Linked DNA regions of Homo sapiens. The protein of the gene in region 4 purifies or fractionates together with the protein of the main gene of each other region. This does not show direct contact. Each region holds a gene or a part of one and is shown on either strand. Other genes may lie near its edges.

What was found.
Region 1: the proteins of ASAH1 (region 4) and CTPS2 purify together in Homo sapiens (affinity purification with mass spectrometry; one large-scale study listed by BioGRID and IntAct). This does not show direct contact.
Region 2: the proteins of ASAH1 (region 4) and PSMB7 fractionate together in Homo sapiens (co-fractionation; one large-scale study listed by BioGRID). This does not show direct contact.
Region 3: the proteins of ASAH1 (region 4) and SMC4 fractionate together in Homo sapiens (co-fractionation; one large-scale study listed by BioGRID). This does not show direct contact.
Region 5: the proteins of ASAH1 (region 4) and NCAPD2 fractionate together in Homo sapiens (co-fractionation; one large-scale study listed by BioGRID). This does not show direct contact.
Region 6: the proteins of ASAH1 (region 4) and OXR1 fractionate together in Homo sapiens (co-fractionation; one large-scale study listed by BioGRID). This does not show direct contact.

What each region holds. Positions count from the first base shown.
Region 1 is NC_000023.11:16,705,512-16,710,763, reverse strand, and holds part of CTPS2 (CTP synthase 2), read left to right. Parts: intron 1-923; exon of another isoform or gene 924-953; coding exon of another isoform or gene 954-1,040; intron 1,041-2,245; exon of another isoform or gene 2,246-2,345; intron 2,346-3,266; exon of another isoform or gene 3,267-3,355; intron 3,356-5,252. UniProt on the Homo sapiens protein: Catalyzes the ATP-dependent amination of UTP to CTP with either L-glutamine or ammonia as the source of nitrogen. Constitutes the rate-limiting enzyme in the synthesis of cytosine nucleotides.
Region 2 is NC_000009.12:124,397,657-124,402,908, reverse strand, and holds part of PSMB7 (proteasome subunit beta type-7 precursor), read left to right. Parts: intron 1-5,252. UniProt on the Homo sapiens protein: Component of the 20S core proteasome complex involved in the proteolytic degradation of most intracellular proteins. This complex plays numerous essential roles within the cell by associating with different regulatory particles.
Region 3 is NC_000003.12:160,398,184-160,402,449, forward strand, and holds the start of SMC4 (structural maintenance of chromosomes protein 4), read left to right. Parts: upstream 1-1,466; 5' UTR 1,467-1,566; intron 1,567-2,375; exon of another isoform or gene 2,376-2,638; 5' UTR 2,639-2,643; coding exon 2,644-2,782; intron 2,783-3,731; coding exon 3,732-3,910; intron 3,911-4,266. UniProt on the Homo sapiens protein: Central component of the condensin complex, a complex required for conversion of interphase chromatin into mitotic-like condense chromosomes.
Region 4 is NC_000008.11:18,065,535-18,070,786, reverse strand, and holds part of ASAH1 (acid ceramidase isoform a preproprotein), read left to right. Parts: intron 1-908; coding exon 909-995; intron 996-3,488; coding exon 3,489-3,567; intron 3,568-5,252. UniProt on the Homo sapiens protein: Lysosomal ceramidase that hydrolyzes sphingolipid ceramides into sphingosine and free fatty acids at acidic pH.
Region 5 is NC_000012.12:6,521,600-6,526,851, reverse strand, and holds part of NCAPD2 (condensin complex subunit 1), read right to left. Parts: intron 5,055-5,252; coding exon 4,815-5,054; intron 4,025-4,814; coding exon 3,850-4,024; intron 3,591-3,849; coding exon 3,506-3,590; intron 1,270-3,505; coding exon 1,136-1,269; intron 785-1,135; coding exon 652-784; intron 566-651; coding exon 481-565; intron 405-480; coding exon 237-404; intron 1-236. UniProt on the Homo sapiens protein: Regulatory subunit of the condensin complex, a complex required for conversion of interphase chromatin into mitotic-like condense chromosomes.
Region 6 is NC_000008.11:106,734,118-106,739,369, forward strand, and holds part of OXR1 (oxidation resistance protein 1), read left to right. Parts: intron 1-3,402; coding exon 3,403-3,483; intron 3,484-5,252. UniProt on the Homo sapiens protein: May be involved in protection from oxidative damage.

The DNA.
Region 1 (5,252 bases), on a different chromosome or scaffold from region 4:
ACCTGTAGTCCCAGCTACTTGGGAGGCTGAGGCAGGAGAATTGCTTGAACCCGGGAGGCGGAGGTTGCAGTGAGCCCAGATCGTGTCATTGCACTCCAGCCTGGTGACAGAGCGCGACTCCAACTCAAAACAACAACAACAACAACAAAGTAGGAAGAATTAGGTGTCCCCTTGGTATTAAGTTGCATTTTTACAAAAGGTCTCTAAAATATCCAAGGTGCTTTAAAAAGGTATCTTGTGTTTTTGAAAAAACAGAAAATGAGCAATTGCTTATGTAGGGGAGGAAAGAGCTGATATCATAAGGGTCACGGCTGACAGCCTTAAACAAGAGACAGATTAACAAGAGAGAAGCATAATAATTTATTGAATCATAGGTTTATGTGACATGGGAGCCTTCAGAAATGAAAACCCCTTAAAGATGCAAGGGAAATGATCTGATTTTATGCTTGGAGTCCATGAAGCAGGGACAGATGAGCTAATGGAAATAGACTGAGTGGGGAAACCCAGCAAAGCCTGTCCACATTCTTCTTGGCCTCTCTGTTGTAGCGTTTCTTCCTCCCCAGTATGGGGTAGGACCTCTTTGGAATGAGGGTCTTAATTTCTTTATGGCCAGCTGTTGTATAGAAAGGTGGTTGAGAGGAAGGTTAGAGTCATATTTTTTGGCTTTATGGCTGGCTTTGGGGGGAAAAGGGTTCTAGTTTCTATGACTTGCCTTGGGGGAGTATGAGGGGTGAGAGACAGGAGGGCAGGAGAAGGTCAGAGAGAAACTTTGCTTCTGAGGCCTTCATTTTTGGGTTTTGTTTTCTGAGCCCCAACACATACAACCTAATCACCTAAATATATTAAGACATAACATGGTGTATCTTTGACCAAATTAAGATAGAAATCTGTTTTTTTTTTTTTTTTTTTTTTTTTGGAGACAGAGTCTCACTCTGTCACCAGGGTAGAGTGCAATGGCACGATCTTGGCTCATTGCAACCTTCACCTCCTGGGTTCAAGTGATTCTCCTGCCTCAGCCTCCCGAGTACCTGAGACTACAGGTGGGTGCCACCACGCCTGGCTAATTTTTGTATTTTTAGTAGAGACAAGGTTTAACCATGTTGGCCAGGATGGTCTTGATTTCTTGACCTTGTGATCCGCCCGCCTTGGCCTCCCAAAGTGTTGGGATTACAGGCGTGAGCCATTGCACCCGGCCATAAGATGGAAATCTTAGTGGTGACAAATAAAATTTAGATCTTAGTTTAAAAAAACATAGTCAATAATATATTCAATTTTATAGTCTGCTCTCTTTTTCAGGTAACATAAGCATTTTCTTTCTTCCTTTTTTTTTTTTTTTGAGACACGGTTTTACTTTGTTGCCCAGGTTGGAGGGCACTGGCACAATCTTGGCTCACTGCAACCTCCACCTCCCAGGTTCAAGCAATTCTCGTGCCTCAGCCTCCTGAGTAGCCGGGATTACAGGTGCACGCCACCACACCTGGCTGATTTTTTGTATTTTAGTAGAGATGGGGTTTCCCCATGTTGCCCAGGCTGGTCTCGAACTCCTGAGCTCAGGCAATCCGCCCGTCTTGGCCTCCCAAAGTGCTGGGATTACAGGCGTGAGCCACCGTGCCCGGCCACATAAGCATTTTCTTTTTTTTTAACTTTTTTTTTTGAGACGAAGTCTCGCTCTTGTCCCCCAGGCTGGAGTGCAATGGTGCTATCTGGGTTCACTACAACCTCTGCCTCCCGGGTTCAAGCGATTCTCCTGCCTCAGCCTCCCAAGTAGCTGGGATTACAGGCGCCTGCCACCACGCCTGGCTAATTTTTGTATTTTTAGTAGAGACAGGGTTTCACCATGTTGGCCAGGCTGGTCTCGAACTCCTGACCTCAGGTGATCCGCCTGCCTCAGCCTCCCAAAGAAGCATTTTCTTATACAAAAATTTATTAGGCATAATGTGACTTGTACGAATGTATGCCAGTTTTCTTCACCATACCTCTACGGCATTTTTCCATTTCGGTAACTTTTACAAAGAGAGTCATTTGAACAGTATAACAGTGCCAGAATAAGGTATAATTAAAGCACAGTTTATTTGCCCCTTAATCCTGCAGGAAAGGTGAAGTCCAGTGGAACATAGACCTTGTCTTTTTGTTTATCTCCATATTCCTAGGACTTGGAAATATGTCAAGCATGTAATAGATGTTCAAATAAACATTATATATGTAATATATGTATATATATAATTTATTTATTTATTTATTTCAGACGGAGTCTCACTCTGTTGTCCAGACTGGAGTGCAATGGTGTGATCTTGGCTCTGGGTTTGGATTGACAATGTTTTAAGCTATAAACATAGGTCAGATAGGTGGGTGCCCTGGTGACTAGTGAAGATGTGCGATGGCATTGAATGTGATCAACTGTGTTGTGTAGAGAAAGGTAGGCCCAGGGACTTAGGGAGGCCATCTGGGATGGAACATGTATATTTTGAATAGCTTCAGTTTACTCAGCCTGACCATGGTCAGCTAGTTCAAATGGAATTCACAGCTCTGACGTGTGATAACTTTAGTTAAGATAGTTTGTTTTGAAAGGTAAGCAGAGGAAACCACAAAATCAGAATGGGCATTCCTTTGAGGAGGACAAATAAGAAGTGGGTAACTGAAATTGTTCCTACCCGAATGCATTTGTGCTGAATTTCCAAGTATGTAAAAAAATTGTGAAATTACAAATGAAAGTGAAATTTATAGTTATTACCTTTTGTTAGTTACTGTCTCTCTCTCTCTCTCTTTTTATTTTTTCTTTTTTGGTACCGAGTCTCACCCTATTGTCCAGGCTGGAATGCAGTGGTGTGATCTCAGCTCACTGCAACCTCCGCCTCCCGGCTTCAAGTGATTCTCCTGCCTCAGCCTCCCATGCAGCTCATGTAGCTGGGACCACAGGCACACGCCACCACGCCCGGCTACTTTTTATATTTTTAGTAGAGACATTGTTTCGCCACGCTGACCAGGATGGTCTTGAACTCCTGACCTCAGGTGATCCGCCCGCCTTGGCCTCCCAAAGTGCTGAGATTACAGGCATGAGCCACCGCACCTGGTCTCTCTTTTTATTTTTGAGACAGGATCTTGCTTTGTCACCCAGGCTGGAGTGCAGTGGCACAATCACTTGGCTAACTGCAGCCTTGACCTCCTGGGCTCAAGCAATCCTCCTGCCTCAGCCTCCCCAGTAGCTGGGACTACAGGTGTGTGCCACCACACCTGGCTAATGTTTTATTTTTCTTTTGTAGAGAGGGAGTCTCACTATGTTGACCAGGTTGGTGTCGAACTTCTGACCTCAAGAGATCCTCCCACCTCAGCCTTCCAAAGTGTTGGGATTACAGATGTGAGCCACCATGCCTGGCATTATTTTTCTTTTTCTGTAACTGTAATTTTATATTGTGGTCTTACTCAGTTGCCCATTTGCCTGCCATGAGTACACAAATAATACTGTTTATGGTCTACTTTCACATACATGGTGAAATTACAAGAGCAGAAGGCCCCTGTACACACTCAAGGGAAAAACAATAGTACTCAAAGTAAAGAAAATCAAGTTATTGGGCTTCCTATAAAACAAAAGGGTTTGAATCAGAAAGCAGCAGAAAAGTCAAATAAATTTTCCTTATGACTGTCAACTTAAAAATCACAAGATCTATAAATTTAGAAAGGAGACTTTCTTTTTTAAAACATTTTCTTTTCTTTTTTTTTTTTTGAGACAGAGTCTCACTCTGTTGCCCAGGCTGGAGTGCAGTGGCGTGATCTCAGCTCACTGCAACCTCCGCCTCCCAGGTTCAAGTGATTCTCCTGCCTCAGCCTCCCGAGTAGCTGGGATTACAGGCGCATACTACCATGCTCGGCTAATTTTTGTTTGTTTGTTTGTTTGTTTTTTTTTTGAGACAGAGTTTCGCTCTTGTCACCCAGACTGGAGTGCAATGGTGCGATCTCAGCTCACTGCAACCTCCTCCACCCAGGTTCAAGCAATTATCCTGCCTGAGCCTCCTGAGTACCTGGGATTACAAGTGCCCACAACCACGCCCGGCTAATTTTTGTATTTTTAGTAGAGATGGGATTTCACCATGTTCGCCAGGCTGGTCTTAAACTGCTGACCTCAGGTGATCCACCCGCCTTGGCCTCCCAAAGTGCTGGGATTACAGGTGTGAGCCACTATGCCCAGCCTAACTTTTGTATTTTTTAGTAGAGACAGGGTTTCATCATGTTGGCCAGGCTGGTCTCAAACTCCTGACCTCAGGTGTTCCGCCTGCCTCAGCCTTCCAAAGTGCTGGGATTACAGGCATGAGCCATTGCACCTGGCCAAAATTTTTCTTACCTTTCGAGTCGGAGTCTCACTCTGTTGCCCAGACCGGAGTGCAGTGGCACGATCTGGGCTCACTGCAACCTCTGCCTCCCAGGTTCAAGTGATTCTCGTGCTTCAGCCCCGCAAGTAGCTGGGATTACAGGTGCCTGCCACCACACCTGGCTAATTTTTTATTTTTAGTAGAGACAGGGTTTCACCATGTTGGCCAGGCTGGTCTCGAACTCCTGATCTTAAGTGATCTGCCTGCATTGGCTGCCCAAAGTGCTGGGATTATAGGCGTGAGCCACTGTGCCTGGTGACTTTATTTCTTTTCTTTTCTTTCTTTCTTTTTTTTTTTTTGAGGCAGAGTCTTGCTCTGTCACCCAGGCTGGAGTGCAGTGGCACAATCTCGGCTCACTGCAACTTCCGCCTCCTGGGTTCAAGCCATTCTCCTGCCTCAGCCTCCCTAGTAGCCAGGATTACAGGTGTGCACCACCACACCCAGCTAATTTTTGTATTTTTAGTAGAGACAGGGTTTCACCATGTTGGTGAGGCTGGTCTCTAACTCCTGACCTCGTGATCCACCTGCCTCGGCCTCCCAAAGTGCTGGGATTACAGGGGTGAGCCACCACGCCTGGTTTACTTTATTTCTTTGCAGGCTGTAACAGCCTGCAAAGGGGCCATCCCACAGGCTGGGAAGCACACGTTTTAAAGAGACAGGGTCTCGCTATGTTGCCCAGGCTGTTCTCAAACTTCTGGCCTCAAGTGACCCTCCTACCTTGGCCTCCCAAAACCAGAGGCAGGCACTCTGAAGGAGGGTTCAGTTTTATGCTGAATGGGTTGGCTAAATATACATATTCAACAGGTTACAGGAGGAGCTATGAATATTCATGAAGGTGGTCCTGACTCATGTGTATTGAATAAACATGAAAATAGCATATGACCCCTG
Region 2 (5,252 bases), on a different chromosome or scaffold from region 4:
CCAGATACCATACGGATGAATCTTTGCAGTTATTCTAAAATGAAGATACTTATGGTAATTTTAGAATTGTTCTGAATTGCTTTATTCAAAGGTATTAGGTATCTCCATCAAAGTATTGCTTTTATTTCTCCCCATCTGATACCTTTAAATGGTGGTAAAGGTGGAATAACCTTTTCTATTAAGTAGTTTTTATTTTTTCTTTTTTTTACTTAAATTTCAGACTTGCAGAAAAGTAACAGTAACGTTCAACAAACACTGATCTGTCCTTTACTCAGATGTGTCAGTTGTTAGCATTTTGACACATGTGTTCTGCCTCTCACACACACATTGTTATTCCTATCATTGTTTCGTGTGCGTGGGGAACCATTTGAGGGTAAATAGCAGGCACCACAGCCTTTCACCTCTGAATCCTTCAAGATGTTCTCTTCTGTCACCTTGATAAAGTCATCAAATTTAAGAAGTTTGACATTGATACAAAGCAGCTTCATTTGTAAAATGGGAAAATTGGTTTCTCTTGCCAGTGAACTGTGGTAATTTGTGTCATGAGCATAAAGCTGAATTAGGAAAAGTTGTTGAAAGTGAGTAGGTAAACAGCTTTGTGTCTGCCCATTTTACTTCTGCCGCCCAACTTTGTGCTTTTTCCTGGCCAAGAGTGACCTCCTGTCTGTCCAAGTCTCATTTGAGTTCCGGGTGATGGGTCCACAGCTCTTGAGTTTATAGAATAATTCTATTTAGAAACCACTGACTCCACACAGACTGGTTTTGCTGCCCTAAAATGCCAGATTAAGGAGAATGAGACATCAGTAACATCTGATTTTAATACCCAAGTAAATTGTTACTTTGAGGTCTTGTTTGTTCCTCCACTCATTTATCAGCTTTTTTTTTTTTTTGAGACTGAGTCTCGCACTGTCACCCGGTCTGGTGTGCAGTGGCATGATCTCTGCTCGCTGCAACCCCTGCTTCCCGGGTTCAAGTGATTCTCCTGCCTCAGCCTCCCGAGTAGCTGGGACTATAGGCATGCACCACCATGCTCAGCTAATTTTTGTATTTTTAGTAGAGAGGGGATTTCACTGTGTTGGCCAGGCTGATACGGAACTCCTGACCTCGTGATCTGCCGGCCTCTGCCTCCCAAAGTGCTAGGATTACAGGTGTGAGCCACTGCACCCGGCCTCATCAGCTCTTTAGTGAGTGCCTTCTGTGTAAAGGCACTATAGCAGGCAGCACAGATAGAAGTGAATATCAGGGTCTTTGTCCTCAGATACTCAGTCTAATGGGGGAGACAGATGTACCTACTGACGAGGGCAGGAGGGGACCCAAGGGAGAAAAGGTCACTTCCAAGCTGGGATAATTCAGGAAGAACTTCACTTGAGCCGAGTCTTAGAAGGAGGATTGGATCTCTTCATTCATTTGTCTGATGTGTATTAAGCATCACTAGTGCGGAGCACTTTGCTAGGAGCTGGGAAGATTAGTGGTTAACACAGCGTCTGCCTCAGAGCCTATAGTCTTGTGAGGGAGACAGGTATTAGACAGGTAAATTCACATGAACCTAGAAGAATGCATTGTGATAAGTGCCCCAGAGGAAAAGAACAGTCATTAGAGAGGATAATAGGAAGGAGTGTGTGGCTGGTGGGTGTTTGTGTAGTCCTTTCTGAGCAAGTGACATTCAAGCATTTTCTACTGAACATAATTTATGAACATGACAGAACATTCAAGTGGGACAAAGAACTATAAGAAAAGTCTCCTTCACATCCCTCCAGAGTAACCACTGTTAAGAATTGTTTGTATTTTTTTCCAGAAAATGTGTTATGATAAACTTTCACGTATCTCCTTCTCTGTCATCTAGTTACCCCTTTAAAAAAAACACACAAATGAGCTCATGCTATACATAATATTCTTCCCTTACTATTAACTCGTTTTGAAGAAGTGTTTATATCAGCTTACGTGGGCCTATAGAATTTCTGTAATAATAGCAAGCTGTACAGAATTGTATTATGTGGCTACACCATGCTTGCTGACCCATTCTTCTTCTGATGAACATCTTGTTTTTCATATTTTGGTAACAAATGTGTCTTGGTCTACTTGTATAAATACGTACTTCATTTAGATAAATTCTTAGCAGTGGAATTTCTGGATTAAGGTGTACACGTTTCGGCCAGAATTCTCTGTTGCAAGCAGTTGAGTCACTGGATGATTTAAGGAAGAGAGGGATTTTTGAGAAAAGTATAGCAGGTGGCTCACAATGTAGTTGGGAGGGCAAGAACTGGGTTTGGGGCCAAGAACAGTGTCTCAGTCTATGCTGCGGGCACAGCTGGTGCCGGACCCTGGCTGCCACAGAACTGAGCCTTCCTGCCATCCCTTCCACCACCAGAGAGTTCCTCATGGGGAAGGTGGGTGCTTCTGATTGGTGAAGCTCAGCCTCAGCTCAGATGGCAGTGGAATTCTCCGGACAGAGGCAGGAAATACAGCTGCTGGGCAGCCCAGAAAAGGGACAGTGCATTTTACCTTTTGAGAGCTATTGCCAAATTGCTGTCCAAAAAGCTGGCACGAGTTTATACTCCCACTAGAGAATACAAGGACGCTTGTCTCCCACCACCTCACGGATGCTGAGTATTTTTGCCAGTCTGATGGGTGAAAGTGGGAAGAAAGAACACTTAAACGCCTGAGGGATGAGTAGGAATTTGCAATGCACCCCTTACCCCCGAGGGATAGACCTCAGGCCTGTGGTGCACAAGGGCTCCGTGTGGTTAAGCACTGAAAGGCCAGAGTTTGCTGCATGGGTGCGGCAGGAGCAGTGAGTGGGGGTGGGGCAAGGGACCCATGCAGGGGGTGCAGCAGAAGCAAAGATGGGGAGGGTGGAAGAGGGATGGATGTTGGGAGTTTGGAGCAGAGGCAAGGCTGGAAAGCAGGCCTCGGGGGTCCAGACGCTGCAGGCAGAGCTGTTTTGATTTTGTCCTGGAGGTCTCCTGCTCTTTCAAGCCAGGGAATGAGAGGATTAGGTTCGCTTGTTAGAAGGAGCAGCTGACAGCTGTGGGGAGCAGTGGCGTGAGAGGCCTGGGGCAGGGAGGGAGCTTGCATCCTGGCCAGAAATGTTGAGGGTGAGGACGAATCCAGTGGTGGTGGCGGTAGGGATGGCCACTGTCATTACAGAGACCTCTCAGACAGCAGCTAACCCCTGGGCCACATCCTGGGTTTCTGTCGTCATTCTCTCCTGGCGTTCCTCAGCGCCAGCTCCTTGCGGCTCTTGGCTGCAGTGTTGCAGTCACGCCTTCATTTGGGGCCATCTCCCTTTTCAGTTGGGCTCTAGGCCCTTTTTCTCATCTCATTTCCTGTTCTTCCTTCCCTTGTGCCCTGGGCTTCAGTGGCAGCAGCCCCCTCGCCCTCCTCTGAAGAGAGCCTAACAGCTGTTGCTGCCTCCTTTCAGAAACACATTTTCTGCCTGGAGTGTTCCTCCTCCTCATCCTGAGTGTGGCCCAGAAGCCATTCCCTCCTGGCTGCCCCTGGCGGAGTTAGCAAGTCCCTGCCAGGAGTGAAGCAGGATCCCAGGACTCCCGCCTTGGCCCCACTTTGCTTCCCCTAGGCATTGTCCCTCCTGCCCCTGCACAATTCTAGACCTCTGAGAGCAGCTTCTGTGCCTCACTCTCAGGGTCTCACGGAGCCCTGTGCAACTCAGTGAATATTTGATGGTGAATTAATTTTCTGATTCTCCAACTTGTTTGTGCTAAAGAATGTCTGAAACTTAGTGTTAGAAACCTTAGCCGCTGTTCATTGTTTGTGAACTAGCAGTTTGCAGCACCCCTGGAATGCAGTTGGTTTAGATTGTGTTCCATTTGTGTGGTCCCAGTTTAGCTGTAAAGTGTTGTAAATGTGACAGGTCCTTTTACTTTTTTTTTTTTTTTTTTGGTTAAAGCTTAGTATTATTTTGAATTTAAAGCATATTTATGGGAATGTCTCTGTGCCAGAGTCTGCTGGGTGCTGGCACATTATTTTCAGTTAAAATTCAGTGTAAGGGATGCTATTATTGCTATTTTACTGACGAGAAACCTGAAAGTTAGAGAGATTTAGCAACTTACCTAGTGTCACTCAGCCCCATAAGTGACAAAGCTGGGATTTGAACCCTTGTCTTCCATCTCTGGCAAGCCCCAGTACAACACAGCTGCTGTGATTTTATCATCCTACAGATGTGATTTCACTTAGCTATTAAGCCTTGCTTCTGAATACTAAAAATATTTATACAGATTCCCGAAGGGCACTTACTGGATTTTGTATTTTTGACTGTTCTCTGCATAGGTTCTCTGTCCTGCATGTTGAAAACAGTATTTACTGAAACAGCCTTATTGCAGCAAAGGAAATTAAACTATATATATGCATATATATCTCCACAATTTTACTACCCAAAAACAACGTGATTTTTACTTTTTGTTTCTTTCCAATCCAAGTCCATTGTGAAGAGGAGCTCTTTACAGAGAATGTAAGATCACGGTTTTGTACTCGCCTGGGCTTTGTCTCTGTGGCTCTCTTAGTTTCTTTCAGCCATTGTTCCGTGGTCGTAGCTGTGCAGGGCTGGCTTTCTTCCTAATCTGAGTTTGATTTTTGTTGTTTTGTCTCTTTTTTCTTTCCCTAACCTTCTTTCACCCCTCCCCTCCCTGCCTTCTTTACCCTTTCCTTTCGAGGGAGTGAGGAGTTGGGTATTGAGAGAGAACTCAGAATTGCTAAAATTTGGTGGTTTTTTTTTTTTTGAGATGGAGTCTCACTCTGTTGCCCAGGCTGGAGTTAAGTGGCTCGATTTTGGCTCACTGCAGCCTCCACCTCCTGGGTTCAAGTGATCCTGCCTCCGCCTCCCAAGTAGCTGGGATTACAGGCGTGTGCCTATAATTAGCCACGCCCTGCTAATTTTTGTATTTTTAGTAGAGACGGGGTTTCACCGTGTTGGCCAGGCTGGTCTTGAACTCCTGATCTCAAGTGATCCACCCGCCTCGGCCTCCCAAAGTGCTGGGATTACAGGCATGAGCCACTGTGCCTGGCTGGATTTTGTTTTAACTCATGCTTATTATTTTGAGTGAGCTACAAACCAAACCTCACACTCCAGATAAAATAGAAGGTCCTCCTAAATGAAATGCCTCCATGGAACATTAGCATTCACTGTGGAATCAAGGCTTTCTGTAATTGTAGCTTAAGTGAGAAAATGAATATTTCATCTGAATTCTCATGTTTTAGTTAGATTGTGAGTTTTTTATTATGAAGAATAAAAGCAA
Region 3 (4,266 bases), on a different chromosome or scaffold from region 4:
CGCTTATGCAATACACACCAGTCTCCCAACCTCACCAAATTCTTACAATTGGTTGGGAGGGGGGTGGCTCTCCACACCTTTTTGAGAATCACTGAACCTGACTTCATGCTCTTCCAGGGAAGAACCATAATGTATTTAGAGTGATCATGTAAATTCATTCAAAAGGGAGATTTAATGGTGATTTAACATGCCAGACCCTAAGTAAGCAAAAGTTAAAGAAAAAAAAAGGAGGCTAGTAGTTCTCAATGTCAAGTACTTAAGAGTTGTTGCATGAATACTGGAGATAGTCAAATGAGCCAGTGGCTCTTTAACAATATAGGGAATTAGGAGCAAGTATGAGATTCTGATTATAAAGTTGTAGGAAAACTAACTTCCCAGAAAAATGCACATAGAATTATGTATACAATGTCAGGCGAGTTATGAACTCTGAAGCCCAATCACCTACCACCAGATCCACAGACCTCAGGTTAAAAACCCACTAAAACTAAGTTCTCGGGGAACAGGAATCGCCAAACTTGCTTACTAATTCTAATTATGCCTTACCCAGGGCAATGTATACAAACACTACTTAGGGAATATTTGCTGATCGATAATTTCCTCATAAAAATAACCATAACACTGGCGAGTCGTTTTTTCCACTAAAGAGCCTTTTAGTCAAATTATTTTAAAAGTCCTAAACCTTTCACTAGTAACACCAATGATCTCGAAAATCATTATTGCGCTATTCACATGTCGACTAAGCTATCACGAATCCAGGTCTTCCAGTTGTCTCTCTACTCCCTTAAAATTTAGGGCTTCCTCCTTCGCATCCCAAAAGCTACACCCGGAGCCCCGCTGCCGCCAGGGAGACAGAAAATGATGCTCCACGAAGCACACAGCTTCAAAACAGGAAAGATGGGATCCAGTGATGGCTACAACTTCCAAACCCTTTTCTCACCAGGTCCAGAGGTGAAGGGATTTACCTCAAGTTCCAGGAAAGCGGTGGCGATTGCTCTCAAATACCTGGTACCTCCCCGTCACCATAGTGACTTCTAAGAGTTACGCTCCCTTCCTCTTCCCGCGATACTTCTACGCGGCACGTCATCCGAGTGGGCCCGAGACCCCGCCTCTCGGCGAGCCCGCCCTCTTCTGAAGAGGCGTTTCTGGACCACTGAGCCCCGCCTCCCACTGTGAGCGGAACCCTACCGTTTTTAAAAAAATCTTTTTCAAAACTTGCCAGGTTGTCTTTCCAAATATTTTTAATAATAGTGCTGCTGCTGTAGACCACAGAGAAAAGAATCCCTCGCTCTTCCTTTTCACTTAGTAGAAACTTCTACCGCGTAGGTCCCGCCAGGAGTTCGCGCATGCGCAGGAGCGACAATAAGATGGCGGTGATAATCGCCGCACTTTTTTTCAAATTAGTGGATCCCAGAAATCATTGCGCGCATTTGTAACGAATTTCCGTTCGAGTTTGTATTTTAGGCGCCATTTTCGAGTGAAGGACCCGGAGCCGAAACACCGGTAGGAGCGGGGAGGTGGGTACTACACAACCGTCTCCAGCCTTGGTCTGAGTGGACTGTCCTGCAGGTAAAGTACTTCTCTTCCTGGTCAGGTTGTCACGCTCTTACTTCCTGCCTTGTCCGCGAGCGCCTGGAAAATAGAGGCCTTGAGCCCGAGCGGCGAAGTCCGGGCTTGAAGCTGCCGCTGGGAGATTTCTCTTGCTGTCACCCCTCCCCCCTCGGCCGCTCCCCGGCGGCCCGGGCTCCCGCGCGCAGCTCCCGGGCGCCACTTTTCCAAGCTACTCAAATGTCTCGGGGAGGCCCTGAGCCTCGCAGATCTTTTCTTTAAAAAATCCTAGTCTCTATCTGGAAAAGGGCGTCTCCCCCTACCCCTCTTCCTTCTGCCAACGGACTAGTCACCGGGTCTCAGCCTTCGCTGGTGACCTTTCATGGTTTACTGTCCAACGGGACTCCGCCTGGGGAGCTGGAGAGACAAACTCTTGCCACTCCAAAATTAGCAAGCGCTGCCAGCGTCCGACTTGAAGTTGCTAGTGGTTAGTCCCAGCCTTCGCCCTTCGCGGTCCGACCGCTGAGAGGAGGGAGACTTCGTTATGCCCCGGGCCGTCAACGGCGCCAGGAGCTAAAGGGCGGGCAGACGAAAGCGGGCGGCGAGTCGCCAGTTAGTCTTCACCGCTCTGGAGAGAGTTGCTAGCCACGGGATCCTGACCCGGACACGAACTCGTTTCTCCACGTCGGTGCGCGCTTGCATCCCTGGCCCCGAAAGCGTGGGAATGTCCGGAAATGCTGGCGTATGGGAGTTCCTTAATTAGAAATGCGTTAGCGAATATTATACGCTTATACTATGGGCGGACGGGTGGAGAGCCTTAAAAACAACAACAACAAACTAAGCAGTTGCTCAATCGTTGATTGATCCTCAGGCACGTCTAGATTTTCCCACTTACATAGGTCTTGTTAAGAAACCAGTCCTGCCTTCTTGCCACTCGTGTCTTTCGATGGCTCCCTTCCCGAAGTCCCGCTGCCTCTAAGCGGAGTGTTAAGCGGGGCTCTCGGAAGCCGGTGGACCGAGATTTCCCCGGGTGGGGCGGGCGCGGTGTAGCGGCCCGCGGGCTGACTTGCTCCCGGCTGTCCCCCGGCCCCAGCGACCATGCCCCGTAAAGGCACCCAGCCCTCCACTGCCCGGCGCAGAGAGGAAGGGCCGCCGCCGCCGTCCCCTGACGGCGCCAGCAGCGACGCGGAGCCTGAGCCGCCGTCCGGCCGCACGGAGAGCCCAGCCACCGCCGCAGGTGAGTGACCCGCCGCGACTCGGCGGGAACGCGCGCTGTGGGACTGGCAGGCAAACGCGCCCAGCCCGAGGCTGGCTGGGGTTGTTGAGCGCGGAGTTGACATCTGAAGGTCCGGTGTCGGTCCGGTAGAGGCTCAGGAAAGCCATTTGGCAACTTTGAGATAGGATTCCCGTGCAATTTTGGTGTAACGGCGCTGGAAGGGATGGGGGCGAGCAAACGGGTTCAGTTGTGAATTTTTGTTTGTGACCTGTGGAATGGTACAGGTCACAAACAAAAATTCAATATCTTTATTGTATTCCCGCTAAAATCGAGACGGTCAATCAAGAGAGCAAGTGGACTTTTTTCCCAGAGACAATCAATATGACTATGTGAGCATGATGAAAAGTTTTTTGACCCTAACCTCACCTCCGTGGTGTTAGATTGCCGTTAAAGAGAAGACGATAATTTATTTGAAGCCACTGTAGCTTTTGTGAGTCCAGGAGTTGGGTGACATTATTAAACCCTCGTGGCAGTGTCGCTGAAGTTCATGAGTTTCCAAAATGAAGGTTCCAGGTGCTCAGCGGTACGGAGAATTGCATCTAGAGCCTTAGGATTTAACCTCCTGTTTAGGATAGGCAGCAGGAAATAGCTTGTTACGGTTTTCCCAGATTTGCTCTATGATGTAGTGTTTTGACTCTTAAGAGGTATAGGTGTATAGAATTTTGTGACCGGTGGCATTTCTTTCAAGAATTTCTTTTTTAGTAAAACCAAGCTGAAGGTTTAGTCACCCCCGTGAGTTTAAGATAATAACATATTTAAGTGGAAAATATAGACTCCTAAGTTTCATAAATAACATCCCTCCATCCCCTACTTTAAAGATGGGCAGTCATTAGTTCTCCGAACTAATTGCACTAATGTAGGCTTTTCCCCCGCCGTTTGCCTTCGTTTTCCTTTCCTTTCACTGACTTAGAGACTGCAAGTGAGGAACTTGATAATAGAAGTTTAGAAGAGATTTTGAACAGCATTCCTCCTCCCCCGCCTCCAGCAATGACCAATGAAGCTGGAGCTCCTCGGCTTATGATAACTCATATTGTAAACCAGAACTTCAAATCCTATGCTGGGGAGAAAATTCTGGGACCTTTCCATAAGGTATTTGTATGGAAATAACTATTTTATAACTTTTTAAATAACTATTGTAAGGTAATACGTTTTTACAAGATGTTTCAGTTTTGTAACTATCCTAAAATTCATTCACTCCCTATTTATCCTGATAGTCTTTCTGTCTCTCTCTCTCACACACACACACACACGTTTCATATGATTTTAACACTGAAATTATCTTTTGTTTATCTGGTTATCTTTGGTACCTCTAGTTACAAAGTTTTCCATTGAATGGAGTCGGTGTGTGTTTCTGTTTGAAAGAGTATTTTCCCTTGGATAATTTTTTTTTCTTAAAGCCTTCTATGGAACCCTTAGATAATTTAACTATAAAATGAGTTTTCTAA
Region 4 (5,252 bases):
TTGTGCTTTTGATACCTTTCTGCCCTATACGTTAAGTGACAGCAGAGGAAAAGAGGTCATTCCTCTGTAGCCTTTGTTCTTTTTTGTAAACTTTACCTTTGTTTCTTTCCCTTTATGTCATCTCCCTTCATGTAAATAATTAAGAATCAAATTCACTTTAAAGATAAAATTAGACTTACTGTATTAATGTATTAATCGAGGCCAGGCACGGTGGCTCATGCCTGTAATCAATCCCAGTACTTTGGGAGGCTGAGGCAGGCGGATCACCTGAGATCAGAAGTTCAAGACCAGCCTGGCCAACATGGTGAAACCCTGTCTCTATTAAAAATACAAAAATTAGGCCAGGCGCGGTGGCTCATGCCTGTAATCCCAGCACTTTGGGAGGCCGAGGCGGGTGGATCACGAGGTCAGGAGTTCGAGACCAGCCTGGCCAAGATGGTGAAACCCCGTCTCTACTAAAAATACAAAAATTAGCCAGGCATGGTGGTGCATGCCTGTAGTCCCAGCTACTTGGGAGGCTGAGGCAAGAGAATCGCTTGAACCCGGGAGGCAGAGGTTGCGGTGAGCAGAGATCGTGCCATTGCACTCCGGCCTGGGCGACAAGAGCAAAACTCCGTCTTAAAAAAAAAAATACAAAAATTAGCTGGGAATGGTGATGCACACTTGTAATCTCAGCTACTTGGGAGGCTGAGGCAGGAGAATCGCTTGAACCTGGGAGGCAGAGATTGCAGTGAGCCGAGATGGTGCTACTGCACTCCAGCCTGGGTGACAGAGCGAGATGCTGTTTTAAAAAATATATATATAAATTGTCAAATAGCACTCTCTTTTAGCTACATATGGGTAAGCCAAAAGGTAATCTTGACAGCATTTCATTATGTCTTTTAGTAAGCATTTTATTTATTTTTCAGCTAAAGGTTATAGTGAATTCTCTGAAGAATATGATAAATACATTCGTGCCAAGTGGAAAAATTATGCAGGTGGTGGATGAAAAATTGGTAAGAGATATTATTTCTCACAATAAATGTTAAGCACATAGAAAATGCGCTGTTATTTATTTAAAGGCATAATTCAGCAACCTCTTCGCAGGGACTTGGGCAAATCTGCATGAATCTAGCTCACTGTCAGAACTTCAGAGGGACTTAAATTTGGGGAATTGGTAATATTAGGGTTACAGCATAGCAAATTATGGTTTCGTAAAAGGGGATGGGACTACATTACGACATTGGGCAAATAACCATATTTCATCTGGGAGTGTGGTATTTCCTTCCCTTTATGTAGTGAGTTCACTATTGAAGACTTGGTTTTTTTTCTTAAGTGTCTCAGGGACATCCAGAGATTTTTTTTTTGTAGATATGAGCAAATGACATACTCAGCCTGGCCCCTTATTCTGTAGAGTTCCTCAGTAGCTCTGACCCTGAAACTCATTTGGGCTGAGTGTTTCTGTGCAATCACCAAACCATTTCATTTTCATCCTCATCATGCAGGAAGACTCCATTTCTCAGCCCCGTTTTTGTTGACGCAGAACCAATGAAACACCTAGGGCCTGGCCCCTAGAACTGTTAAAGGGATCCTCATTGCTCTTGATGGCAGATTTTGGGCATTAATGACATTTGGGGTTGGGCAGCTTTTTTTTTTTTTTTTTTTTTGAGACCTCATCTCACTCTGTAGCCCAGGCTGGAGTGCACTGGCATGATCATAGCTCACAGCTGCCTTGATCTCCCAGGCTCAAGGGATCCTTCTGCCTCAGCCTCCTGAGTAGCTGGGACTACAGTCACGTGCCGCCACACCCAGCTACTTTTCTGAATTTTTAGTAGAGACGGAGGCTTGCTGTGTCACCCAGGCTGGTCTCCCAACTCCTGGGCTCAGGCGATCTTCCCGCCTCAACCTCCCAAAGTGTTCTCCCAAAGTGTTGGGATCGTAGGTGTGAACCGCCATGCCCGGCCTGGGTTGGATATTTCTTTGTCGTGGGCTTGTCTACATTCCAGGATGCCCGGCCTGGGGTGGGTGTCTCTTTTTTGTGGGGCTGTCATGTGCATTGCAGGATGTTTAGCAGCTCAGGATGCCCGGCCTGGGGTGGGTGTCTCTTTTTTGTGGGGCTGTCATGTGCATTGCAGGATGTTTAGCAGTGTCCCTGGCCCTTACCCACTGGATGCTGGTAACACCCCCTCAGTTGTGACAACCAAAAATGTCCTTAGATGTTACCAAATCTCCCGTGGTCGAGAATCATTGCCCTAGCGGCTGAGTGCTGTGGCCACATCCTCCCTATGACACTTGTACCTGCCAAGCACCAAACCCATTATCCCTCACGTGCATGCTCTCGGAGCTTTTGTTTCAGGCTATCCTTTATGTTCATACTTACCGGACTTCCTCAAAACAAAAAAATGCTGGCAGGAGCAAAAGAGGATGAGGCCCCCACGTTCCCCGTATGCCTTAATCTCCCCTCTACTCTGAATGTTATCAGGGAGGGCAACATTGCAGAGAGTTTTTGTGCCACGCCTTGGAATCGGACAATACTGGGTTTTAAGGCTGGATCAGTCACATACTAGCCTTGTGTCCTAGGGAAAGTTTCTTAACCTATGAAACCTCAGTTTTCTCATCAGGGAGAATAATAATTACTAATATATATTTCATATGGTGGTTGTAAGGGTTAAATGACATACTGTGTATAAAGCATAGTGCTTGGATGTAATAAGTGTTTAATAAATACCCATTACGTCACATTTGTTTGTTAAATGGCTGGAACATTCCACTTGGGGAATGCTTTGAGTTCCTAGGGAGAAAAAAAATATGTTTAGGTGACATTACATGTAATTACCAAGTTGGTTAAAAAAGTGAGATTCGTGAATTTTAAGCAGATTATCTCAGCAAAAGGCCGTGAACTTAAGTTGTGATCTGGATGTTAGTAGTTGCCATTGAGAATAAATATATGATGTCCACCACTGAATTTGCTCAATGTCTCTGGTTTGCTAAAAGAATGCAGTTACTTCATCTTAGCTGAAGATCAGCCATTAACCATGACACAGGGCTATGGATAGAATAGTGCAGGTTTATCTCTGTGAGTGTGGGAAGGAAATGGTAAGAACGGTATATGCCAGTGGCTAGAGGGTGAATTCGTGCAGAGAGATAAGGAGTGCTTGTTATGATGTTTTTGTGGTGTGGGTCAGGTTAGGTCATCCAAGTGGAATTACTCTCGTTCCTGCCTTCTCTGGAGAATGATGGAAAAATAAGGCAGGAAAAACAATCTGAGAATCTGGTCTCTGTATAGGGGCCCAATATTCAGTATTACATAGAATCTTTTTATAACTACATGATGTAAAAATGCTTTAAAAAATAATTCCTATCACTTATTATGATAGCAGTATCTAGAAAAAATTATATGTCCAAGAACTAGATTTCAAAGCATGCTTTTATTATATTTGTTTATATTATATTATATATTTTTTATTGTTATTATGTTAAATGCTTTTATTAATATATTTGTTTTCCAGCCTGGCCTACTTGGCAACTTTCCTGGCCCTTTTGAAGAGGAAATGAAGGGTATTGCCGCTGTTACTGATATACCTTTAGGTAAAGTTCACTTAGAAGCTTTAAAAAAAAAAGTAATTAAATTCTTTTACAAGTTTCCATTGAGGTGTGATATACATACAGCACAGGTGCTGTATGTCTTAGATATACAGCACAGGTGCACAGGTCTTAGATATACAGCTCAGTGAAGCTTCAGAAATGCATGCATGCATGTAGCCATGACTCAGATCAAGATACGGAAGAGCCCAGCACTCCACGATGCTCCATCATGCCCCTTTGCAGAAAATACTGCCTCCTCCAGTAAACACTATTCTGATGTCACTATAGATTAGTTTTGCCTCTTCGTGAACTTTGTATAAATAGAACTGAACAATATGAACTGTCCTGTGTGATTTCTTGTATTTCATTATGGGTGGTGTGCTATTGTATCAACAGGGTATTTGGGTGGTTTTCAGATTTGTGATATTAACAATAAAGGAATTATAAATATTGTAGTACATTTTGGGGGTGTCTGGGTACTCATTTTCTGGATATATACCTAGGAAGTGAACTGTTGTGTTATAGAGTAATTGTGTGTTTAGCCTTATAGATTCTGCCAAACAGTTTTCCAAAGTGATTCCAGCAGTTGACAATCAGCAGAGTATGAGAGTTTCAGTTTTCTCCTCTTGATAATTCTCCTCTCGATAGTGTCAGTCTTTTTTTTTCCTTTTTTTTTGTTAGTGTCAATCTTTATTTGAGCCTTTTTGTTGAGTGTCGCAGTATCGCATTTTAGTTTCAATTTGCATTTCCTTGATGATTAATGAGATTGAACAGTTTATTGACTTTTTTTTTTTTTTTTTGGTTTTCTTTGTTTCTTTTGGAGAAGGGCTTGTGAAGGTCTTTTGCCCTTTTAAAAATTAGATTGAAGGAATTTTTTACATACTTTGAATATAAGCCCTTTGTCAGATATATGGATTCTGAATATCTGCTCCCAGTCTATGACCTTCATTTTTATTCTCTTACTTTTGTCTTTTGATGAACAGAAATTTTTAATTTTAGTGAAGTCTAATATCTCAGTCTTCTCTTTTATGAGTAGTGCCTTTTGTATCCATTTAAGGAATCTTGGCCTACCCCAAAGTCATATATATATGCTTATATATTTTCTTCTAGATGTTTAATGTTTACTTTTTACATTTAGGCCTATCATCTATTTTGAATTATTTTTGTATATGCTATGACTTATGGGTCAAGCTTCAGGTTTTTCTCATGTGGTATATCCAGTTAGTTAAACAGCATCAATTCAAAAGGCTATCCTTTCCTCAGCAAATTGCAGTGGTGTCTTTGATATAAATATACAATACATATATATATACACACACACACACACACACACACACACAATGTGTATCTGTATATACAATCAGGTGATTGTATATATGTTGTTTTGTTTGGGGAATTAAGTTTCATTTACATATTTGTCTTTTTGTCTTCCCTTATATCAATACTATTTCACCTCAGTTACTAAAGCTTTATAGTAAGTCTTCAAATTAGGTGGTATAATTCTTCCAACTTTGTTTTTCTCAATATTTATTTAAGTTACTGATTTCTCTGAGCAGTATCTTTTATTTTCAGGGAGAAGACCTCACATGCCATTCGTTAAAATTATTCTTAGATATTGATGGTTTGGGAAGCTATTTTTAAAATTTCAATTTAAGCTTTATGGCATGTAACGAAAAATATTTTCCCCA
Region 5 (5,252 bases), on a different chromosome or scaffold from region 4:
TTTTAAGTCCCATCAAACCTGAATCCGATTTTTACTGATCTTCCCCTTGCTCACGTGCTATTCAAACTAGTGAAGTAGTAAGAGTTGGGGGTGGGAACTGGCCCAACTTCAACTTAGACAAAAACGACACAGTGTACACTAAGGGTTGTTGCAGATAGTGGTGGTGGCAGTGGCTCCTGGCCCTGCAGGGAGAACAGAAGCTGGCTGCCGCAGTGGGTCAACCCCTGCCCACTTACTCGGGTCCTCCTGACTGGTTCTCTTCTCTTCTAGCTTCTCCAGGGCCTGTTTTGCACAGCCCTGCAATATCTGGGCACAGATCACTTCGGGGCCCTCTGCCAGTTGGTAAATGAGGGTCACTGCCACCTCTTTGAATGGGATCCAGAGTGGGTCTGGGTGGACAAAGCCTGCAGAGGAGGAGGGAGAAGTTGTTTACTGCAACAAAGGGCCCAATTCTGCCCAAGGCCTTCCCTGAGAGCTCACCTTTTGTGACTGTCTCCCGCAGTCGCTCAAACAACCTGTGTTCCTGAGGCAGCCGGAAGGGGGGGTGACGTTTGCCCAGAGAAGGCTGTGGAGAGCAAGACAACGTGGGTGTGTGTACAGGGTGGACACGAGAATCTCCACTCTCCTTAGTTTGGAACCACCCCCACATACCTTTCTCCTGTCCGAGATGTTGGCAATGGCATGGCACACCTGCTGGGCCAGCCTGTAGTCCTGTGGAAACTTCTCATCCAGCCCTATGCTCACCAGTGTGTCTAAATTGCTTCCCACAATTTCTGGCTTTCCTCTAGGGGAAGGAAGCCACAGAGTTAAAGGCAGTCATGGATTGGACTCATCGGGGGAGAAAGGGCCAATAGGGGTAGGTACCAGCACCTCATGTGGTGTCTAGAGCCGTGGAGCACTATAGCGTGGCTCTGCCGCAGGGCCAGCCTCTTGGGTCCTGTTGCTTTACTGAATCCCACTACTACTAGGCAGGAGGGCTGGTCCTCTCACTATTTGCTTTTCCATTTAGGTGGCGTTATAACTCACAGCAGAGCTCAGTTGGGCCTCACTGTGACAATGTCACTGAAGGAAAAGGAGCCCTCTCAGAACCTTCCTTTGCTCTCCCACCCCATTGCCTGCTAGATTTGAGCCTCACCGTGCCATCATGCCAAGAAGCATGACAGAGGAACAGCGCTCCAGAGGACAGCAGGCGACCTTCTCGGTGGCCCGCTCCCACAGCAGCTGGGTCACTGCTGGTTTCAACTCATCCTTCTGCACAAACTCACAGAGCTAAAGAGAAAAGAAAAAGGGCTCAAGCCAAAAATGAACAATTCCTTGATCTTTGGTCTGCTTTTCTGAAGATGATATTGCGAACCTGAAGTAGACAAAAGTAATACTTAGGAAGAGAAAAAGAAAAGAGGAGGTTCAAAATGTACAGCAGGGTCTTGAGAGGCTTTCCATTCTCTACTTTTCTACTCTCATGCCTTCAAAACTATTTTATTCAAGTGACATATCGAAACTGACCTTTTGAGTTCCACGTGGGTCCATAGTTCTAAGTCTGGAGATTTCTAACAGGTTTTCTTGCCGTTACCACAAACTCAACATGTCCAACATGGAAGCCATCATCCTTCCTTGCCTTTTCATTTTGCCAGTGGTATCAACACTCTATCAGTAATATGTGCTTAAAATTTCGGTCATCTAATTTTTTTACAAATCAGTCACTATTTTTCCTTTAAAAATTTGTCTTCCATTAAGCCCATTCTGCAGTGATTTCTCCAATCCTCAAGTCCAGCCCCTCGTTACTGCCCACTGCAGCAGCCTCCACGGGCCTTCCTTCCCATGGGTTGGTCTCCTCAGCCTCTGCTTCCCCACGTCCCTTCTGTTGCACCCCAGTTTGCAGGTGCTCTCCCCTGCCTCTTGTAGGGCTTTTGCCGGTAACTGACCTATGACATCATGGCCAATCACCACCACCAGGCTCTTTTCTTTTCCCCAGTGAGGAGAAAAATGTGGCTGGCAGGAGCACGCTTCCCAGCGCCACCTCCACTCTCTGTGCCCGCAATGCAAATGCTACAAAGCAGAATGTCTCACTAAAATGCTGGGTGCCTGGCTAACACAGTTAAAGTCCTAGACTCCTGAAGTCATTCAGGGACTTCCACAGTTTAGTTCCAACCTACATTCACAACTTTATTATCTTTTCCAGATTTTTTTTTTTTTTTTTTTTTTTGAGACAGAGTCTCCCTCTGTCGCCCAGGCTGGAGTGCAGTGGCGCAATCTCGGCTCACTGCTACCTCCACCTCCTGGGTTCAAGCAACTGTCCTGCCTCAGCCTCCCAAGTAGCTGGGACTACAGGTGCCCACCACCACACCTGGCTAATTTTTTTGTATTTTTAGTAAAGGTGGGGTTTCGCCATGTTGACCAGGCTGGTCTCGAACTCCTGACCTCAGACCTCAGGTAATCTGCTGCCTTGGCCTCCCAAAGTGCTGGGATTACAGACGTGAGCCATCGCGCCTGGTCTTTTCCAGATAATTTGAACCAGAACACAGTCTTCTTTGTTCTACAATGTGAACTGTGCTCTTTCTTGGGTTCTGTTTGAAATGCCCTCCCTCCTTGCTCTGATTCTCTAAATCCTACTCATCTTTCAAGACCCAGCTTAAGTCCTACCACCTTCAGGAAGCTTCCTTGACCATTCTACCCCAAACCGCTCTCTTTCCTACTCTGTATCCCTCAGTAGAACACAGAAGTTAAGAGTATGTTTTCTAGAGCTCTTATTGCCTGAGTTTGAATCTCAAACTTTGCCACTAACTAGCTGTAACCAGCCAAGTTCAGTAACTTCTCTGTGCCTCAGATTTCTCATTGTAAAATGCAGATAATGCTACCTCACAGGGCTGTCGTGAGGATTAAACAAGTTACTGTGAGTAACGTGTGAGTGCCTGTCATATATTCAATACCATATAAGTGAGGTTGTTATTATTGCTATGACAACCATTACCCGTACAACTCATTCTGGCACTTTATTATCTACCTGCTGCATTGTTCTAAAAATGTTCTGTGGTTTTTCACTACCAACTAGACTGTTGGTTCCTTTAAAGTTGGGAACATGAAAGCAAATAGTCTTATACTTCTTTCTGGAGCTAAGTAAATTGCTAAATACATAGTAATAACTCAATAATACTTGTTGCCGGGCGCTTTGGCTCACGCCTGTAATCCCAGCACTCTGGGAGGTTGAGGCGGGTGGATCACGAGGTCAAGGGTTCGAGACCAGCTCGGCCAACATGGTGAAACCCCGTCTCTACTAAAGATACAAAAAACTAGTCGGGCATGGTGGCACATGCATGTAATTCCAGTTACTCGGGAGGCTGAGGCAGGAGAATTGCTTGAACCTGGGAGGCGGAGGTTGCAGTGAGCCAAGATTGTGCCATTGCACTCCAGCCTGGGCAATGGGGCATGACTCCGTCTCAAAAAAAAAAAAAAAAACAACCAAAATACTTGTTGAATGAATAAAGAAAGAGAAAGCAGGAAGCCTTACAATTTCCTCAAGACACTGAATGGTCCCAACCGAGGCATCCACTAGCAGCAGAGAGAGATTCTGAATCAAAGCCTGGGCCTTGGCTCTGTGGGAACAGCAGAGATCAGCGGTCACTATAAGATTGGGAAGCTGAACTTGGCAAACAGTGATTAGGGCTATCCCACCACAGTGCTACAAAACTGCTCTCCCTGGAAACCGAGCCCCACCCTAAGCCCCACTATGATGGACTGCCTATGGATCTGGAACTCCCCTGGAGAAATGCACCTCTTCCTTTAGGAGACAAGGGAAGTCCTGTGAGAAGCTGACCTTGGAAAAGTCAGCAAAGGCAAAAGCACCCCATATACCTGGCAGAGTCCCCTTTGGGGTTGAGGTAGAGTTGGCGGTAGGCATTAAGCACGGCTTCCCGGACACCAGGCTCCTTAGACCAGATGAGAGGCAGCATACGGCGCACCCCAAACAGGGCCTGGGGTACCCCAAATTGGAAGACCATCACAAAGAATTCAATCACCTCCTGCACCACTGAGAGAACATGTACAAATGTCACCTATCTACTTCACAAAACTCCCCCAATACCTAACGACAGAACCTTTCTGAATGTAGCAAGATGCAAATGGAGGCCTTCCGCATTTTCCCTGAGAATGTCGACTCCTCCTATGATGCCTTATCATGAAATACTATATGCATTAAAATGTATAAGCTGTAAGTGGCTAGAGGAAGCAAACAGAAAAAAAGAACCCCTGCCTTTTTTTTTTCTTTTCTTAAGACACAGGTTCTTATTCTGTTGCTCCGGCTAGAGTGCAGTGGCATGACCACAGCTCACTGTAGCCTCAAACTCCCGGGCTCAAGCAATCCTCCTGCCCAGCCTTCCGAGTAGCTGGAACTACAGGTGCGTGCCATCACGCCCAGTTAGTTTTTGTTTCTTTGTAGAGATGGGGTCTTGCTATGTTGCCCAGGCTGCTCTCGAACTCCTGGCCTCAACCTGTCTTCCTGCTTTGGCCTCCCAGTTTTGTAGGGATTACAGGCATGAGCCATCGCGCCCAGCCGAGAACCCCTGCCTTTTAAAGGAGCAGATAGATATATCAATAAAATATGGAAAAGAACTCCAAGATCCATGGCCGGGTGCAGTGGCTCACACCTGTAATACCAGCACTTTGGGAGGCTGACGCAGAAGAATTGCCTGAGCCCAGGAGTTGGAGACCAGCCTGAGCAACAAAGGAAGGCCCCATCTCTATTGTTAATAAAAATTTAAAAAATTAAAAAATCCAAAAGAACCCCAAGGCTGTCCTTATAGAAAGGGACTCTGGCATACCTGTAGTTGTGTTTTCATACATCATCTTGCTGATGATGCCAATGGCCTCTGTAATCTTCCGGGAGAAGCTGTAGGCATCCTGCAGATACTGTACCAGCATCTCCTGCTTCACTAGTTCATCATTTCCCCTGGATTCCTCAGGATCCGACATATTGGGTTTATTTTTACAGACAGTCTGTCCTGTGACCATGTTTCCTGTAGACTCCCGGGGATTCTTTTCTTGTGTGGAAGCTGCTGGGCCTAAGGAGTTAGAGAAGTACAGGATGGTTTCGTTCAAGGGGATACAGGGGAATCCAACAGCTGTCAACATTCCTGGATATTTACTTATTTATTTTCCTTCTTCTTTTCTTTTGAGATGGGGTCTCACTCTGTTGCCTAGGCTGTGCAGTGGCAATGATCACCGCTCACTGCAGCCTCAACTTCCCCGGGCTAAGGTGA
Region 6 (5,252 bases), about 89 Mb from region 4:
GCTAATTTTTTGTATTTTTTTGTAGAGACGAGATTTCTCCATGTTGCCCCGGCTGTTCTCAAACTGGAATGTTATTTTGAAAGCAGTAGTTTTAATTTGGGCAAAATGGGGCAAAGTTTAACATAATTCAGGTCTTATTTTGTAATAAAGACTGTTAATATATGATGAGATATAGTAGAACAACGGCTTATGTGACTTCAAGGATGCTGTTGTATGCTCTTTTTGTTTGATACAGAAGCTCAGAATTATATTTCCTTCTTTAACATATTTTTTGAGACCAAAGTAAGTGTAAGTGGCATTGATTAGATAGTATTTCTTTTTCTCTTGCATTTCCATTTACTGAGAAAGTAGTAAAAATGGCACATTGACATATAACTAGCAGATTTTTGTTAGTGTGCAAGACATTGAAGAAAGGGAGATTTGGGGTTTGTTTTGGAGTAATCTTGGGGAAACACTGGAACGTCCATAAGGTATTGTTCTTTATATCTAAGAGATGAACGTGTTCTTAATCATGGGATTGGCAGCAACTGTGAATTTTCTCTAGTCTCTGTTTTTGTTAGTCCATTTGTAATAGTGATGGGTGGATTTACCCCTGCCTTTCCATTGGTAATTCTGTAGAAGTAAAGGCTTAGGAAAATACTTTCTCTTTGTGAGGGTCCTTTGTCAAAGACTGAAAAGACTAGAGAGTGGCATTTAATTCTGCAGAGTATAGGTCATGGTACTTAGTTCCTATAGATAGGAGTTAGCAGTATATCCAAATACTTTATTCCTTAAGAAACGATTTTTTAGCCAGTGAATGCACTTTTAATTGGAAGGTCTTGGTTTTCTCAACTGTTTACTCCTAATAATTCAGAGCGTGATAAGGGATATTTTGGAGAAATGTATTCATTTTTTATTTAGGTTTAATCTTTTGGGTAAAGTAATAAATTGTATACATGGAGTATGGTTTACCAAGGGTTTAAAATTAATGTAAGAGTAATTCCAGTTTCCTCATATATACTGGGAATATATAGCTCTTTTATCCCTTTATTTTGAGAGAAGGAAGTATATTTCTGTACTCAAATTCAAATCTCTTTTTTCTATTAACTCACAGACTTTTTTTTTTTTCTTACAGTTTTCTGTATCCTCACCCATCAGGGCATGAGTAAATGTTTAAGGTTAAGGAAGCAGAAAGTTTTTAAGTCCTAGAAAAAAATATAATTGAAAAAAATAAATTTGAAAGAGTAGATTTGTGACATGAAAGAAACTATGACTTTATCAAGTGTTATTAAGATAAGCTTAGCCTTATGGCGATTTATTGTTCTCTTATTAGTAACTCCTACTCTCAGCAATGCTGATACAATTAGGTTATGACTGATCTCTTTTGTAAGCATAATTTAATTTCACTTCCACCCAGGAAGTGTTTTTCTTATAGTAAATGAAGGAGTTTTAGAATATAGATATAAGATAATTGTTAACTGGAGGGATAGAAGGAAAGCAGAGAATTAGATAAGTTATTTTTGACAATCCTTGTCTAGGAGACTATTGGATTGAAGGCCATGAAAAAAGAAAGAAAAATATAATTGGCCATTAAATATTTCTAGAGACCTGTTTTGCTGGGCATAGAAAAGCAAGCCCATGATGTTTTTTATTTTTAGTACCTAATTTTTCTTTTATCTTTATTGAAATCCTATTGTTCTTAATTGAAAGTCCTTCATTATTTTTATCTAATACTGAAATATAAAAATTAAATTCAGAATAATCAAAATGTTAAAAATAGTTGAGATGTCAAACCTGAAATATTCTCATTCAAAAATAAAAACCAAAAATTAATAAGGAGGCTCTTTGGCCATTATCATTTAGTCTCCAGGGTAATTGGTGAAAAGTAATCAAGTAAAAGTCATATGAATAATAGTAGTTCTCATTAATATGTTCTGGGCACTATACTCAGTCCTTAATATGCATTTCCTCAGTAATTCACATAAAACCAGATTTGATATGCACTTTTACTATTTTCATTGTTTTATAACAAAATTGATAGGCAATGGGGAACCCAGGTTTATCTGACACCCCCCCCCATCCGCCCCCAGAGCTAGAGAGAATAACAGCTTCTGGTTTCTAAGTACAGAGTCAGCTAACATATTGTATGCTTTGTTGCTTCACAAAATTCAATATAATAATAATGGCCAGAATGGAAATCTGTCCAGCCTCTTTTCCTTTTTTCTATTCTCATGTCTTTCAGAACTTTCAACAAGTTTACATAGCTTTTCATAGTTACCTTAATGTTTACTGGTAGCCAGTTCCTTTTAGTTGGCTAAATAAAAAGCCTTTAAAACCTAGGTTCAAAATCTAAACTCTTTATGAGCCAGTTGGATTAACTCATTTTGTGGTCAGAGCCTCTGTGCATTTTTGATTGATTACAAGAGGAACTAGTCATAGCTCAAGAGAATCGTCACATATTTATCACACCATTAGCGTTCACTGTAGTATGGTAACTGTTTTTAGAATTATGTCATGATCTGAAAAAGCTGTAACTATTATGTCAACCTGAGGAAACTTACCTGTTTTTGTGGGCTTTCTGTAATAGTGTTTATCTGTCATTTATGGCTTTCAAATTTAATACTGTGCAAGAGCCTGGTCTAGGCAATTATAGAAGATAGAAAGTTTTCCTTTGAAAGTTAAAATGTAGGAAAGTTGTTAAATTTTAGTCACAAATAAATGATACAGTAAAAACCATAAAGAAATAAAACAGGAGAGAGGCAAAAAGTGGAAAAAAAAAGTCATTTAAAGGGCTGAAGCAGACATACTTAGAAGGTACTTTTGATTAGACATACTTTTGAAAATCTAATTTTCTACTTTCTAGAGCTTATTTTTCTTATTGCCATAGGTTTTAAAATGTACTTCTATATTGTTTTCTTGCTCTTCTCTCCTCTGTTGTTTCTGTTATAGATGGGTATGTTTGTCACCTGTGCCTAGAAGAAATTCTTCCAGCATGGCCATTAGGATATAATGTTTGAGCTCACCTGATTTGGAGGGGGTAGTTGAAACTACCACTTCCTTTGTAACTGCAAGACCGTTTAGTTTTCAGACGTTATCTTTAATGTTAGCAAAGTATGTGTTTTATATAGTGTTTTCTGTATAAAAAACTATAATTTCTATTTACTAAGTTGAATCTATATGGAATAGTCCATAAAATAAACCTTACATACCAACTAGTTGGATGTAGTAGTGAAAATCATTCATGGATATTTCACTCTAGTTTGATATATAAATCTCTTGGATTTTCAACATAGAGTGGGGAAGAAATCCTAATTACAGTTCTCTTCCCATTTTAATTTCTCCTCTTTTTTTTTTTTTTTTTTTTTTTTTTGCTGTTTTTCTCAACTGTCAGTGGAATTATTGTCTTCCTGTCTCCATATTTAGGTAGTGTCAGTGGCTGAGTATCACCGCAGGATCGATGCTCTAAATACTGAAGAACTGCGCACACTCTGCAGACGCCTCCAGGTGCCCCCTTCAGTAGTTTAAACCCCTCCAGAGACTAAATACTCCCTGTTTTTAGTGTTCTTTGTCATGGCAAATCTCATTTGAAGAATTTGCTTTGACTGCAGCACTAAAATTAAATTCCTTTTTGTATTAAAGGTTATAGTATTGCCGTGAAGAGCTGTGGATTATCTTTTCTGTCATCTTTTCATTTGAAAAATATTCTGAAGAATGTTCTGTCACTTCAGAATTATTCTCAGTATTGTGTGTTTCTTTCAGCGATGAGGAGTTTTCATTCATTTAACGTTGGAAGAATGGTGTTGGTTTTGAGATTGAATCTTTTCTAAACAAAATCTGAAAGATATGGTACTATAGGAAAACTAATAAAAAATTTAATAGCAAGGCTTAAATATTTTATTTAAGGCTATTTCATTTATATCAGCGTCACATCAAATATCTCAATAGGATAAACTGTTCTTGAGGCATTCTTGGTTGGTATTAGGAGTACATTGGAATAGTACAGTTTAGACACAGAACTGGATAAATTACTTAAAATTCTGTGAAATAATCTTTGTGATTTTTTTTTTAGAAACAAGAAAGCAATGTAATTGAAAACTCATTTTTAAGTTGTGTCTATTATACTGTGTTTCTTTCTTCTTAATAAGATATGCTTTCATGGCTCTGCTAGACCTGAATTTTTTCTTTTAATGCTTCTAATGCTGCCTTGGGTTTCTTTTTCTTTTTCTTTTTACCTTTCACATCATCAAAATAAGGGTGAAACATGATGATATGAAAGAATGAGTATTTAGCTTCTTGTCAAAAAACAATACACTTATAGAACATGTATTGGTTGCAAATATATGCTGCTCAGGTTTGTTAAGAAACCTGTTAAAGGAACAAAATAATTTAGCAAGAATTTCATTCCCATATAGAATCACAGTTGCTGAGCGTTGCTGCATTTTAGTTATCTGCTCCAATAGAATTCTGCATATTTTCCAATTTAAAAGTTTCATAATGTTTCATTTCTTTTATTTTCTAATATTATTATGTTTTATATATTAAAATAAAATTAATATTAAAAAGTAAGCACCAATAGAATATATTGTGCAGTAGTAAGCTTTATTTTTACTTAGTTAACATTCTTATCGTTTTAAGAATACCAGTGAAATCATTTCCACCAAGCAAAAAAGCATGTATTCTTTGTAATGCAACACATTAATCTAATTTAAAAAATAAATTTATGAACAAATTAACAGTAAAATTTATTGTTTGGTCCAAGTAGATGAAAAAAATTAAATGTTTAGAAAGTTATAAAAAGAAAGCATTTAAAAAAATGGTAACGTTTGTCAGTGAAACAAATACATGCACAACTCACAGAAAATAGTTATTTTTTTTTATTCTACTATTCTTTACATTAAAATTTTGGCACCCAGGAAGTTTTGTTCATTATTTTTGACAAATTTTGTGTTAGCATGAAAGAATTCTATTTTAAATAGCATACACACACACACACACACACACACACACACACACACACACACACAGCGCAAGCCAGCTAGCTGACTTTTGCCCTTCAAGGGCTTAATTAAAGATGCATGCAACTATCTTCTTTACACAGAAATATGGGGATTTATCATTCCTACCAGTCGTTCCTCATGTAGTGGATGAGAAAACGTCTGCTTATATTGTTATAAAATCTTTTCCTACATTGGCTACATCATAGATATTAGATATGGGCCATCTTTTGCCCTATAAAATCTTAAGGTTAAAGATTTAGCCACATTTTCTACGAT